Linked DNA regions of Homo sapiens. The protein of the gene in region 1 purifies or fractionates together with the protein of each later gene. This does not show direct contact. Each region holds a gene or a part of one and is shown on either strand. Other genes may lie near its edges.

Region 1 (7,162 bases):
AACTATAATTGCTAATTAATTACTCCCACACTCATCTTCAATGTCCATATTAACCATACAACCTTTTAACTAAATGCCACTGCAGAGATATCAACCAATTAGAGAACTATTGTTCAAAGCACAATACAGAATCACTGCAGTTGATTCAGGGAGTTCAAACTGGGAATTCAAATCAAGTCTTACCATAACTCTGATAAAGAGGTGAGGATTTGCTCATACCATAATAATTAAAGTAAACCTCTTACTTCATTAAGAACAGGCCTATTTGGGGAGAGTGAAATAGAAAGTGGGAAATTATCTAATGTCTTGGGCCAAAATTATTCACCTGAGACTATTTTTCCTTTGAAGCATTAAAATAATTGTCTTACACTTCACTTTTATATTATCAACTTAGGCAAACTTTAGTATTTCATTGTTTTTAGCCTCTCTATATGGTCTTTGTGTCTAAAATTAGTATTTTCAATACTATAGTTATGACTTAGCTTATCCCACACTGACATGACTAAACCCAAATCTTCCCTTACTGAAGATTGAGTATATCTGCATCACATATTTCACCCCATGAACCCCCGCACTGTTTTTCAAAAGGGCCGAATGATTATTAAAAGTGCAAACACTCCTGACATCTCATTCAAATTTCCACAATCCTCTACTAAGACACTGATTCTTGCAATGAGTTAGGAGTCAGTTTGGCTTTGTGGATCTGGTAGAAGCTCACCAGATTTGAGTGGGAGAGTGCCCTTTCCTTCCTTGTACCCATTTCCCCCATCCTGAACCAACATGTTTTTAGGCCCTGGATCTTTAGAAGTTTAGTCATAACTAAGGCCAACGTGAAACCATGCGTCATCCCAACTTACCATTTGCAGAAAGCTTCCATCTCCCGTTGTTCCAGCCTTCTTTTTGCAGGCCCAAACTGTCATTGCAGCTGTGGTCCCCTGAGCACCAGTCAAGGGCAGCAGCTCGGCTCTAGAAAGAGAGATGACATAAATCTAGGGAAAAGCTACTGAAGGATGAAGATATTTCCCAAACTAACATTAGCGAGAGGGTACTTAGGGCATACTGGTACTCGAGTTTGCTCCTGCCCGCCCATCTTCTGCAAAAGCTCTAGTAATTTAACCTGAAACCACAGACCCGCCTCTCCGTCCTTTTTCCTGTTTCCCTACACTATGCAAACAGTACCTCTTTTAGCTGGCCCTCCATGCCATCACCCAAAAGGTCACGTACCGGCCAACCCTAAGGCATCTTCCAAATGACTCTCACTGTAACGTTCACCATCCGCTGTCCCAGATTCGAAACCTACCCTGCACGGCAATCCGCAAGCACTAACCGTGGTTGGTGGCTAGAATATGAGTAAGGATCACCGGGAGGAAGGGATTCCTCCCTCCAAATGGACGACTGAATCTTCTCTCCCCCACGCCCCACCCCAGCACCACCAGACGAACCCCATTTACCATCTCTCAAAGCGCAAAAATATTTAAAGCAATATTTAAAATACTTTAAGTGCGCCCCGTTTCCTCCTGCCACCCGTCCCAAAGCCCACACAGTCTTTCTCAAAAATGTGGATATTCAGGTTAACCTGCGATTTTGTTCGAAAGTGGCTAAACTGCATTATCCGAATAATTTACTTTTCCACTCCTTGGGTATAACTAAAATGCAGTTGGACAGAAAAGAGCTTGCAGTTGTCCAAAGTCATTCCGGCTCCAAAGGGCGAATTCTCTTTTCGCCATCTCTCCCAGCCCTGGAACAGCTTAGGGTCCCTCTCGAAGAGCACAGCGCCAGCCCAGACCCCATACACCCACCGTCCCTGGCACCCGAACGCGCTGCGAGCCCCGGGCCTCCCACAGGAGCGGAGACGCGGGTCCCTGCGCCTCACGCCGGAACGGACCCGTCAGAGCCGCCGAGCCCCGCACCTGGAAGCTGGGAGGCCGCGAGGACGGAGAATCGAGGCGGAGACCCAGCCCAGCGCCCGCGCAGCTCGGTGCCCTCCCGCCAGTGCCCGCACTCGGGTCACACCGCTTGCTCTCGGGAGAAGCCCCAAGGCTCGCGGTGCACCGAGAGGCGCCCGGGCTGGAGCGCCCCGGCCGTGTTGGCCACGGAGTTCTTCAGCTGCTTGATGACCACGAAGAGCAGGAGGAAAAGTAAGAAGAGCAGGAAGAAGAAGAGCGCCAGGTAGAGCAGCAAGTTGAGTTCCCACTCCATGCTGGAGGCGCCGGCGCTCGCTGGCCCTGCGCGCTCGGCGCGGGCTGCAGCTGGAGGGCGAGCGCGCCGCCCGCACACCCACCTCCCGCACTCCCGCCCCTCGCGAGGGCGTCCCGCTATGGGCGCCGACTCCGGGGTCCGTGCTTTGCCTCCCCCGGCTCCGAGGAAACGCGCCAAGGAGCTGAGGAAATCCGGCGCAGACTCTCCCAGCTGGCACCAAAGCCTTCCGCTTCGCCGAGATCCTCTCAGGTGCTCTTGAGGACGCGAGCGACTTCCCTAGGAGCGAACTTCCGCGGGCACGGACGCCAGAAGAGGTAACAGCTCAGTCTTCCAGGGGAGGTCGGGACTGGTGTTTTGTAAATGATTTAAAAGTTCCACCCCCAACATCCAGTAGGGTCCCTAGCTCCGCTGCGTTCCCAATTAATTTATTTCGTTATATCCCTCCGTTCCTGCTTTCCGAAAGGACAGGGGATGTCATGGCCCAGAGACCCAAAAGAATGAAAGGTGGCAGTGAAGATGGGGTCTGAAAGGCTATGAGATGATTTCGTGCTATGAGGTGTCTGAGTGAATTCCAGTTCGAGCTGTCTTGCTCTTCAGAGTAGCAGATACATTCAGTGTTGAGTGTACTTTTCTATGGACAACAGGTCACTTGGAAACGCATTAAGAATACAATGTATTTCAGAAGTTATATAGCACAAAGATTTCAAATATTGGCCTCAAATTCAGTTTATTTGGTGAAAAGAGGAAAACAAGTTTACTCAAAGTGTTTCTTGAGTCCCTAAAGCCTTTCTGTATCTGGTTGACGTGACCCAAAGCCCATATCGCGCAGCTTTAAAAGCTGTTCAGTGTATCTATTACTGCAGAACAAATTACCCCCAAATTTAGTGGCTTCAAACAGCATAAACATTGATCATCTCTCACAGTTTCTGTGGGTCCGAAATGTGGGAGCACTGGCTGGGTGATTCTGGTGTCGGGTTACTCATGAGGCTCCGTTCAGATGTCAGCCAGGTCTGCCTTCAGCTGAATGCTTGTGTAGAGGTGGAGGATCCACTTCCAGGGTGGCTCACTCACTGCTTGCCAGGTAGGGCTGGTTGTTGGTGGGAGGCCTCAGTTCCCTTCCATGGGTGCTTCCAATACAGCTGCGGGATTCCCCCAGAACAAGTGATGAAAGAAAACAAAGCAGAGGCTGCAGTGCTCTTTACCGCCAGCTTCAGAAGTCACGTGCCATCAGATCTGTAATATCCTACTGGTCACACAGGTCAGCCCTATTCAGGGTAGGAGTCCAAGGACACGAACGCCAAGGAGTAAGGATCACTGGGGCTCATCTTAGAGTCGGCTATGACAGCTGTTAATACAGCCAGCTATCATTGCCCATTTGTAGGCCTAACTTTATTTTATTCTTTATTTGTGAAGATGCAGAATTGCCTCCTGGACTGAATTCTGGGGATGAGGGCTGACAACATCCCAGATTGTAATAAGTGGCTGCTCCAGGGATGACAGGGGTTCAAAGAGACAGGGTGGTATGAAAACAGTCTGTGAACTGCAAGTCTCATGGACCCGATTCTAGTGTCAGCTCTGTCAGTGGTCACTTTTGCTCAGTGACTCTCAGTCCCCTCATCTGTAACATGCCTTGCTTATCTTTCCCTTGGATTTGTTGTGAGGCTCAAAAATGAGAAAATGTTAAATAAAAATGTGTTTTGCTATATAAATGTCAGATACTGTTATTATTCTATTACGAAGGGCCCCCAATGCTACAAGCTATTGTACAAAATTTCCAGGCCCTAGGCCTCTCCATCAAGCATCTTAGTGCATAAGTGAGAAGAATCTTTCTTTCATTTTCTCTTTGTCTCTCTCTCAATAACATTATATTGATCCACTTCATAGGCAGTGGTATGCTGGAGCTGGCTCGTAATGACTCACAGGAGCTGATTGTTAAATTTTGTAAACCAATTTTTAAATTCCAGCTATTATTAAAAGTTAAATTATATAAACCTACAATTATGTTAACAACAAAGGTAATTAATACTCCAAACTCATCACTTTCTAATTATTTTATTAGGTTGGTAAAAAGGCAATCACGGTTTTTGTCATTAAAAGCAAAAACCGTGATTGCTTTTGCACCAACCTCAGTACTACATTTCACTGCTGTCTATGCACTTGAGGTTATTTACATCTGTTGTAGCTGTGTGGTGAAGATGCTGCATAGTGGTATGTTACTGCGCATCTCTTCCCAGCTGTGTTCAGTGCTGTCATGTTGGTAGCTTGAAATTAGCCATGATGAGTGGGTTTGCCTTGAGAAAATGGACAAATGCTACAAATCAGGACCAGGGAGGCAGTTGTTAAATTAACCAGCACAACACTGCTCGTGGGACTATTGAGAGAAATTTGAAGTCTTATACAAGTTTAGCAAAGATTTGTGATTTTTTTTTTTTGACTGCCCAGAATCCACACACCTCCACTCTAAGCACCACATGTTCCTACGGGTGGAATTCTCCATTTTATGTAATCTTGGCAAGAAGACAGATCCCAGTGCCTACTTTCCCTTGCCACCTCCTGTTATGGAAACCAAGGGGATCAGATATATCTTTTACCCACTCCTGATACAGTGTGGGGAGGAGGGCAGGAAGAGCTATGCCAGAAATTTAGCTAAATATCCTTGTCTCCAGTACTCTGAATCTTGGGAGTTGACAGAACAGGAGGAATGTTCGGAAGTCAGATGCATCCCCGTTGCACAGGCAATCTGAGTGCCAGAACAGTCCCAAGAGTGACCTAGCCATGGCTACTGCTACCTGCTTCGACAGCATCCTCAACTCCTGGCCCAGACTGGGCCCTCCTGCTTTCTTTCCATTCCGTAACCTTCCACTGGCTTTCCAGGAAATCTTGCTGCGAGGCAGAGTGGTTAGCGCCAGTTTTCAAAGGAGAATGCTAACCAATTAAGAAAGCATTGCTTAAGTACTTTGCACATGTTAAGCACTCTTAATTAACGAGGTGTTTGGTCGGAAAGGCATGTGATTTGGCACATTGCCATCCAGATATCCAAGGTATCTAAGGATGAAAACTGAAGCATGGAGAGGTTAAGTGACTTGCTGAAGACCACACCGCTGGCAAGTGGCAGGAGAGGGATGTGAACCCAGGAAGTCTGGCTCCAGAGCCTGCACTCCCAACCCTCATGATTGTACTGCCTCTCAGGGAAAAGTATACTTTTGTGTGCATGACCATCAAATTAATCACCATATTTTTTTCTTTTGAGCGTCAGACTAAAAAGAAACACATTTCAAGAGACATATGCCTTCTGCATCTCAGCTCCTACTTTTGAAATCTTGAAGGTCAGAACTTCAAATGAGCCAGTGTTTGCCTGCAGAATGCTGTGGGAAAAGGCCAACGGATGAAGGTTTTATGTTGCCAAGCTCAACCCATGTCAGCCTTTCTAACCATAACTATTTAGATTATCCATTTATCTGAGCAGCTTAAATGGATTTATAGGTTATAGGTGTTAACTAATAAATTCTTATATTCACTCTCCGTAGAATTTGTATTTAAAATAATATTGCTGCCACGAAAAATAACATATTACATTTAGTGGATGCTCCCAATGTTTTTCAGCCTCTGGTCATATTTATGTATCTCATAAAAGGCTCTGAACTTCAGTTTATATTGTATAAATGACTCCATATGAATAAAGCAGAATCTTTCTCTTCCTAAAGATGCTCATTAATGGAAATTCATAGAAAGAAAACCCAAGCATTTTAAAAAGCAGAAAGGATACTCACTATAGATAAGAGCATTGCTGCTTCCAGCAACTAAAAGATGCACAAATGGGTAGGTGGAGGGAGCTGTGTCACTACAATCTCATCCGGCTGCCCACAGTGTGGACCACACATACACTCCCACTAACAGCGTGCCTCGTCCCCCACTCAGAGTTAGACTTCATGCATCTTTCATCTTCTCAGTCTCCTCCCTGTGGGTCTCAAAACAACTAGATATTGCCCCGGAGCTGCCCAAGGTCTTAGCCTATGGACCTCTGTGGCATGGGCAAGATGAGGGTTCCCCTTCCCTTTCCCACCTTATTCCTCCCCACTCTCACCTCTTATAGGAAGCAGGTATTTGATCATAACAAGCATCATAGATATTTATGAGAAATGATTAATGCCAGGAACAGAAAGGTTTATGTGTCTTGTAAATGTGCTTCTATAAAGTGTCTAAACACCTAAGAAGACACCTAGAAAGGGCTGTAAAAATCTACTGTCACAATCCTACCTGGACTTACCTGTTGTGGGAAACTGGAGGATGGAAGCAGCTTCCCCAGGAGAAGGGCAGGATAAGATTGGGAGACAAGAGAAAAAGAGATTTCCGGGCACCTGTCTGAGGCTGACTCAACTTGGCCTGACATGAACCCCTCCAAAAAACAAATGTTTTGCAACATGCTCTGGACTTGAGATGTGTTGTTAACCTGGCTGGTAAGACAGGTTCTTAAGTAACAGCACACCTTCCCAGGTACTGCAGGCCATAAGAACTGCTTAGATGGGATCACCTTAAAGCACCCATGCATGTGCTGGAGATGAGGTCCATACCCCTTGGAAGCTTCCAGGCCCTAGGACACTGTCCTCGCTAGTTAGGACCTGAATCAGCCCCAATGATCTTGGTGACTCCAATGGCCCAGAAATATCCCAGCCATACTATTCACGCCTCTGTGGCACCTCATCTCCCTTGCTTCTGCCCCGTACACAAAAACACCACCATGTTCATTTCTGTGGAGGAGATACAAACTGGACCTCTTTGAAATTGCTCCTTGTTTATACTCTTTATCACCCCTACAACCCTCTAGATCAGAATTAGAAAGGCTAAGAGAATGTTTGCTGCTATAGGAGAACAGAAAAGTGAATTGTTCTGCCTGAGGGAGTTGTATAAAGTTCATCAGCTGTTACTGTAACACCCCATGACAGGATTTGCTCTTTACACCTTC
Region 2 (7,027 bases), on another chromosome or scaffold:
TTTTTTTGTGTCTGGTGCAAGGTAGGAGTCATATTTTTTTCTCCCACAGGAATGTCCAATTGCTTCAGCACTATTTAGGACTTTTGTCACAGATAGGTAACTGTATATTCATAGGGTTTAATTTTGGACTTTATGTGGTTTTATTGGTCTATTTGTCTTTAGTTTTATTATTTTTTAAAATTTGAGACAGGTTCTCCCTCTGTTGACCAGGCTGTCGTGCAGTGGCGCAATCATGGCTCACTGCAGCCTTGACTTCCAAGGCTCAGGCGATCCTCCCACCTCAGCTTCCCAAGTAGCTGGGACTACAGGCTTGAATCATACAGGTGTGCACTAACAGACCCAGCTAATCTTTTAATTTTTTGTAGAGGTGAGGTCTCACCGTGTTGCCCAGACCTGTCTCCTGGGCTCAAGTGATCCTCCTGCTCTTTGGCTTTACTTTTAATTAATTAGATATTCTAGAATTTGGGTTGAGAAAGGGACACATTGTAAAACAGTCCAGAGCTTCGTCTACTCCCCTGAAAACGGTTTTGGTACCGATTATGGAGTTCTTTAGTTCTGACTCTCCTCACCTGTTTCCCTCAACCCAGTACCCCTGGCTGGTTGAGTCTACTCCATCTTCTACAGAACCAGCGCAGACAGTGACCAGGCTCAGGGTTCCCAGTCTTTGGCATTTCTTTCTCAAATGATTTATATTTAGAGTGAATGTAAATACTTTTTCTCTAAGACCTGTTGCCAATTTTTAAAATTATTCAATTCTTTCTGATTTTGCTACATAATGCTATAATTGCTTAACTTTTTTATCATAATAAGATATATATATATAACATGCAATTTACCATATCTAAATATACAGTTCAGTGGCGTTAAATACATTCACATTGTTGTGCAACCACCACCACTATCCATTTCCAGATCTTTTTCATCAACTGAAACTTGATACCCATGAAACAGTAACTCTCCATTCTTCACTCTCTCCAGCTGCTGGTTCTGCCTATATGAATCTGACTATTCCCAGTTGAACCATACAATATTTGTCCTTTTCTATCTGGCTTATTTCACTTAGCATAATGCCTTCAAAGTTCACCTGTGTTGTAGCATGTGTCAAAATTTCTTTTTCTTTCTTTTTTTTTTTTGAGACAGAGTCTTTCTCTGTTGCCCAGGCTAGAGTGCAGTGGCGTGATCTCGGCTCATTGCAACCTCTCCCTCCCTGGTTCAAGCAATTCTCCTGCCTCAGCCTCCCGAGTAGCTGGGATTACAGGCATGCGCCACCGCACTTGGCTAATTTTTGTATTTTTAGTAGAGATGGGTTTCACCATGTTGGCCAGGCTGGTCTTGAACTCCTGACCCCAGGTGATCCACCTGCCTCAGCCTCCCAAAGTGCTGGGATTACAGGTGTGAGCCACTGTGCCTGGCCTCATTTTTTAATTTTTTGTAGAGATGGGGTTTTTGCTATGTTGCCCAGGCTGTTCTTGAACTCCTGGCCTCAAGTGATGCACCCACCCTGGCCTCCCAAAGTGCTGGGATTACAGGCGGGAGCCAACGTGCCTGGCCCAGAATTTGTTCAGGCTGAATAATATTTTCTTTTTGTGTATACTGTATTTTGCTTACCCATTCATTCATCAATTGACCTGAGTTGTTTCTGTTTTTGGCTATTGTGAATAATGCTGCTGTGATCATGGGTATGCAAATATCTATTAGAGTCCCTGCTTTCAATTCAGAAGTAGAATTGCTGGATCATATGATAATTCTATGTTTAATTTTTTTTTTTTTTTTTTTTGAGACAGAGTCTCGCTGTGTTTCCCAGGCTGGAGTGCAGTGACTCAATCTCGGCTCACTGCAAGCTCCGCCCCCCCGGTTCATGCCATTCTCCTGCCTCAGCCTCCCGAGTAGCTGGGACTACAGGCACCCGCCACCACGCCCAGCTAACTTTTTGTATTTTTAGTAGAGACGGGGTTTCACCATGTTAGCCAGGAAGGTCTTGATCTCCTGACCTCGTGATTCGCCCGCCTCAGCCTCCCAAAGTGCTGGGATTACAGGCGTGAGCCACCACGCCCGGCCTCTATGTTTAATTTTTTTGAGGAACTGCCATACCATTTTCCACAGAGGCTGTACCATTTTATATTCCCACTAGCAAGGAGCCAGAGTTTCTGGTTCTTCCGCATCTTCACCAACACACATTGTTTTCTGTTTTTCTTCTTTTTTTTAAAATGGATGTGAAATGGTATCTGATGCTGGATTTGATTTGCATTTCCCTAATTATAAGTGAAGTTCAGCATTGTTTCATGTGCTTATTGACTATATGGACATCTTCTTTGGAGAAATATCTGTTCTTTGCCTGTTTTTGAATTGAGTTGCTTGATTTTTGTTGTTTAGTTTTAGGAGTTCTTTATATATTCTGAATATTAACCCCTTATCAGACATGTGATTTGCAAACACTTCTCGCCCATTCTGTAGGGTTGCCTTTTTACTCTATTGCTAGTGTCCTTTGATGCACAAAAGTTTTTAATTTTGTAGTCCAATTGATCTATTTTTTCATTTGTTGCCTGTGTTTTTTTGTGTCATATCCAAGAATTCATCACCAACTGGCATCATCACCAACTGGCATCATGAAGGTTTTCCTCTAAGAGTTGTATAGTTTTAGCTCTTAGGTTTAGGTCTGATCCATTTTGAATTAATTTTTTTGTACAATATAGTGTTTAACTTTTTTTTTTTTTTTTTTTTTTGAGATGGAGTCTCACTCTGTCGCCAGGTTGGAGTGCAGTGGCACAATCTCAAGGCTCACTGCAACCTCCGCCTCCCGGGTTCAGGCAATTCTCCTGCCTCAGCCTCCCGAGTAGCTGGGACTACAGGCGAGCGTCACCACACCCAGCTAATTTCTGTACTTTTAGTAGAGACGGGGTTTCACCATGTTGGCCAGAATGGTCTCAATCTCTTGACCTCGTGATCTGCCGCCTCGGCCTCCCAAAGTGCTGGGATTACAGGCGTGAGCCACCGCGCCCAGCCTAGTGTTTAACTTTTAAATACTCATGTAATAATTTTGTCTTTTGTATTATGAATATCTCATAGTTCTCTTGTCAGTTGCTTTAGTGATCATATTTGACTTTGGCTATTAGTATCAGGTAGTAATGATTGATTTCCTTTCTTTTGAGAGCTAGCTATGAAATCCTAAGGCTGCCAGCTAACTGAGTATACCCTCTCTTGGCTAAGGGGACCCCAGGAAACCTTAAAAACTGAATTCCCAACCAGAATGGGATGGGACATCTGACACGCCTCAGTATACCCCCTCCCTTTTGAGGTTTAAACACAGCTGACCAGCATTAATGTTAAAATAGAGATCTGAAGACTGAGAGAACAGACTCTTTGTGGCAATAAAATACCCAACTGTGAACAAAATGTAGGGCCATGCCAGGCAAGGGTTAAGTAAAGCATCCCCTTAAAGAATAAACTGGTTCTAACTGCCTCAAGGTGTTTCTTTTTTTCTAGCGGCTAAACAAGCACTGGCCTCCAGATAAGCAATATTAAGATAACTGCAGCTCACTCACTGCCAGACCCTAAGTGATCCCCACTCTCCTGTTCCACAAGCCATAACTATAGCTTTGATTGGACAAGAGACTGATTTCAGTAACTTTCTCCTGATAAGAGCACTGAGCATGAACTGGTTCTGGCCAGTTTACAGAGGCTGTGCACTTCAGTGCCTTCATGTCCCTGCTTCGCCATCTGACTACAGGGCCTCATTGTAATCCTTTTAGATGTTAAGTCTCCACCCACAAGTGAATATGGATAAGTATGTAACATACATGTTTATTCAGCCTGCATGTGCATGACCTCCCCCACTTTGTGAATATTCATAGCTCCTCCTATAACCTGTTAAATATATAAACTTGGCCAACCCGTTCAGCATAAATCCCTGTTCTATCCTCCCTTGAAGGTCTGTTTCTGTGCTCTGCGGGAGGATGCTTCCCAGCTATCAGGATTGCCACCTTGTAGGCTGTGACTCTTTACAAAATTATTTTTGAGGCAGAGTGTGGTTCCGTCACTCAGGCTGGAATGCTGTGGCACAAACACGGCTTACTGTAGCCTCTATCTCCCAGGCTCAAGAGATCTTCCTACTTGAAGGAAGTCTTTTTTTTTTTTTTTTTCTTTTTTTGAGGCAGAGTCTCACTCTGTCACCCAGGCTGGAGTGCAGTGGCACTATCTCAGCTCACTGCAACCTCTACCTCCTGGGTTCAAGCAATTCTTGTGCCTCAGCCTCTTGAGTAGCTGGGATTACAGGTGCCACCACCATGCCTGGCTAATTTTATTTATTTATTTATGATATGGAGTCTCTGTCACCCAGCCTGGAGTGCAGTGGCACAATCTCGGCTCACGATAACCTCTGCTTCCCGGGTTCAAGTGATTCTCCTGCCTCAGCCTCCCAGTAGCTGGGATTATAGGTGCCTGCCACCATGCCCGGCTAATGTTTTTGAATTTTTAGTAGAGGCAGGGTTTTACCATGTTGGCCAGGCTAGTCTCAAACTCCTGACCTCAAGTGATCCTCCTGCCTTGGCCTCCCAAAGTGCTGGGATTACAGGTGTGAGTCAATGCGTCTGGCCATTTTTGTATGGACGGGTTATTTCCGTGTTACCCAGACTGGTCTTGAACTCTCCTGGCCTCAAGTAATCCTCCTGCCTCAGCTTCCCAAAGTGCTAGAATTAGAGGTGTGAGCCACCATGCCTGGCCTGGCTGCGCAATCTAAATTCTTCCTTATCCTGGGTATGGCTTAAGCTCCCCTCTTGGCTAGAATATTTTTGGAACCAAGTCTGGGGTTGACTGGGACTTTTTTTTTTTTTTCTTTTACACGGAGTCTCGCTCTGTCACCGAGGCTGGAATGCAGTGGAGCGATCCTGGCTCACTGCAACCTCCGCCTTCCAGATTCCAGTGATTATCCTGCCTCAGCCTCCCAAGTAGCTGGGATTACAGGCGCCTGCCACCATGCCTGGCTAATTTTTGTATTTTTAGTAGAGATGGGGTTTTGCCATGTTGGCCAAGCTGGTCTTGAACTCCTGACCTCAGGTGATCCGCCCCTGCCTCGGCCTCGCAAAGTGCTGGGATTACAGGCATGAGCCACCGTGCCCAGCCAGACTGGGACTTACACAACAGAGATTTTAGAACCTTCCCATTTAGTTGGCTCCTTTTAGGCCAAATGGGAGGTGGGGAGATAATGGGGATAGAAGTATCCTTCATCTACTGCCTCTCTAGATGAGTTTACCTGCTGTTTTCTACTGGTGTCTTGCCCTCAACTCTATGGCTTACCCTTTATGCAGGAGATAAAAAACTTTAGTCCTTCCCACTTGGGAATAGTGGTTGGGCAGAAGGTGGGAACCAATCACCAATCTTGTATGTAAGTTCAGAATGCAGTTATCTTGGAGTCTGTAGTCTTCTGACCTTTGTCATTGCCCTCCAGTGAAAGACCTCCAAGAGCACACCTGTAGTTGGACAAATTGGGCTTATTGCATATTTCAGTGAGTTCCATGGGGAACTGTGGGGTGTTTCAGTAACTTTTCAAATGGGATTTGGGCTTCTACTAGGTAGTTTGGGAAGGGTTTAAGGAAGTGAGGCTTTGATCTGTATGGGGTGCTGTTAGGAAGCTGGAAAAATTCTGTAACTGGATAGCTTAAGAAATCTTTTCTAGAAGGAAAGAAGACTGGAATAAAGCTAAAGCTGTAACTGGTAAAGAAGCAACAGTCATTCCTGTTAGCCAGGATAGAGAGTTGGTCATTTCTGTGATTTGGACAATGTTCATGTTTTTTTTTTTGCTTGTGTTCAGGAGTGATTACAGAGTGGTCTTGTTTAGTCTTTATCCATCATGGTCTTGTCTGATATTGATGTTCTCTGAAATTGTTGATGTTCAGCAGAAGAGTCAGTCATCAAGGCCTAGGTGTGTGCCTTGCTCTGAGTTGTTAGCCAGTTTACAGCAACACCAAGGCCCAGCTGTGATATTACCAGGCCAGCTCCCAGATGTCAGGGGCTGCATTTCTTTTTCTCACGTGGTTGTAAAGTCTTCTAGTGGAATGATGTATTAGAAACAAATCCAATAGCCAACATAAGTTGAAGTGATTTTCTAACATAGAAGAGCAAAAAGGAATGGGATAGAGGTATAGAGGTTTCATTTGTATTTGACTTTTCTAAACTGGGTTAAATCAGCTTCCCCTCTGCGGTAGGCAGCATAATGGCCCCTGAAGTTGGTAATCCATGTGGTAATCCCTGGAGCCTGTGGTGTGTTACTTTACATGGGTAAAGGGATTTTGCAGATGTGAGTATGTTAAAGGAGAATTACCCTGAATTATCCAGGTGGGCTCTATGTGGTCACAGGGTCCTTATAGGAGAGGCAGGAGGGTCAGAGTCAGAGGAGATGTGATGACAGAGGCAGAGTTGGAGTGATGCCCTTTGAGGAAGGAGGAGGGACCATGAGCCAAGGAGTGTGGGCGGCCTCCAGAAGCTAGAAACGTCAAGGAAATGAATTCTTTCCTAGAGTCTCCAGAAGGAAGCAACCTTGCTCACGCCTTGATTTTAGCCCAGTGAAACTCAATAAATTTGTGTTGTTTTAAGTCACAAAGTTTGTGTAATTTGGTTACAGCAGCCATAGGAGATTCCTACTCCTTCATCAGGAGGCTTTGACTTTCACTGCTGTCCCTGTATATCTTACCACTCCATAGTTGTGTACTTGAGGTTAAAGGAAACTGGGACATTCTAATTACATTTGAGATAATTTTTCATGTCTTCCTATTCTGTCCTCCTTTTTTTTTTCTGAGATGGAGTCTTGCTCTGTTGCCCAGGCTGGAGTGCAGTGACATGATCTTGGCTCACTGCAGCCTCCGCCTCCCGAGTTCAAGCAATTCTCCTGCCTCAGCCTCCCAAGTAGCTGGGATTACAGGTGTGCACCACCACACCTGGCTAATTTTTGTATTTTCAGTAGAGACAGGTTTCACCTGTTGGCCAGGGTGGTCTTGAACTCCAGACCTCAGGTGATCTGCCTGCCTTGGCTTCC

Evidence for each region.
Region 2: the proteins of SMIM43 (region 1) and LMBR1 purify together in Homo sapiens (affinity purification with mass spectrometry; 2 studies listed by BioGRID and IntAct, with this or other methods). This does not show direct contact.

The regions. Positions count from the first base shown.
Region 1 is NC_000004.12:121,762,907-121,770,068, forward strand, and holds the start of SMIM43 (small integral membrane protein 43), read right to left. Parts: upstream 2,259-7,162; 5' UTR 2,200-2,258; coding exon 2,008-2,199; 3' UTR 1,911-2,007; exon of another isoform or gene 1,679-1,910; intron 967-1,678; 3' UTR 858-966; intron 1-857. UniProt on the Homo sapiens protein: Required for mesendoderm differentiation. Interacts with glucose transporters and promotes glucose uptake. Probably augments the glucose uptake capacity of glucose transporter proteins to meet the energy needs of mesendoderm differentiation.
Region 2 is NC_000007.14:156,883,160-156,890,186, reverse strand, and holds part of LMBR1 (limb region 1 protein homolog), read left to right. Parts: intron 1-7,027. UniProt on the Homo sapiens protein: Putative membrane receptor.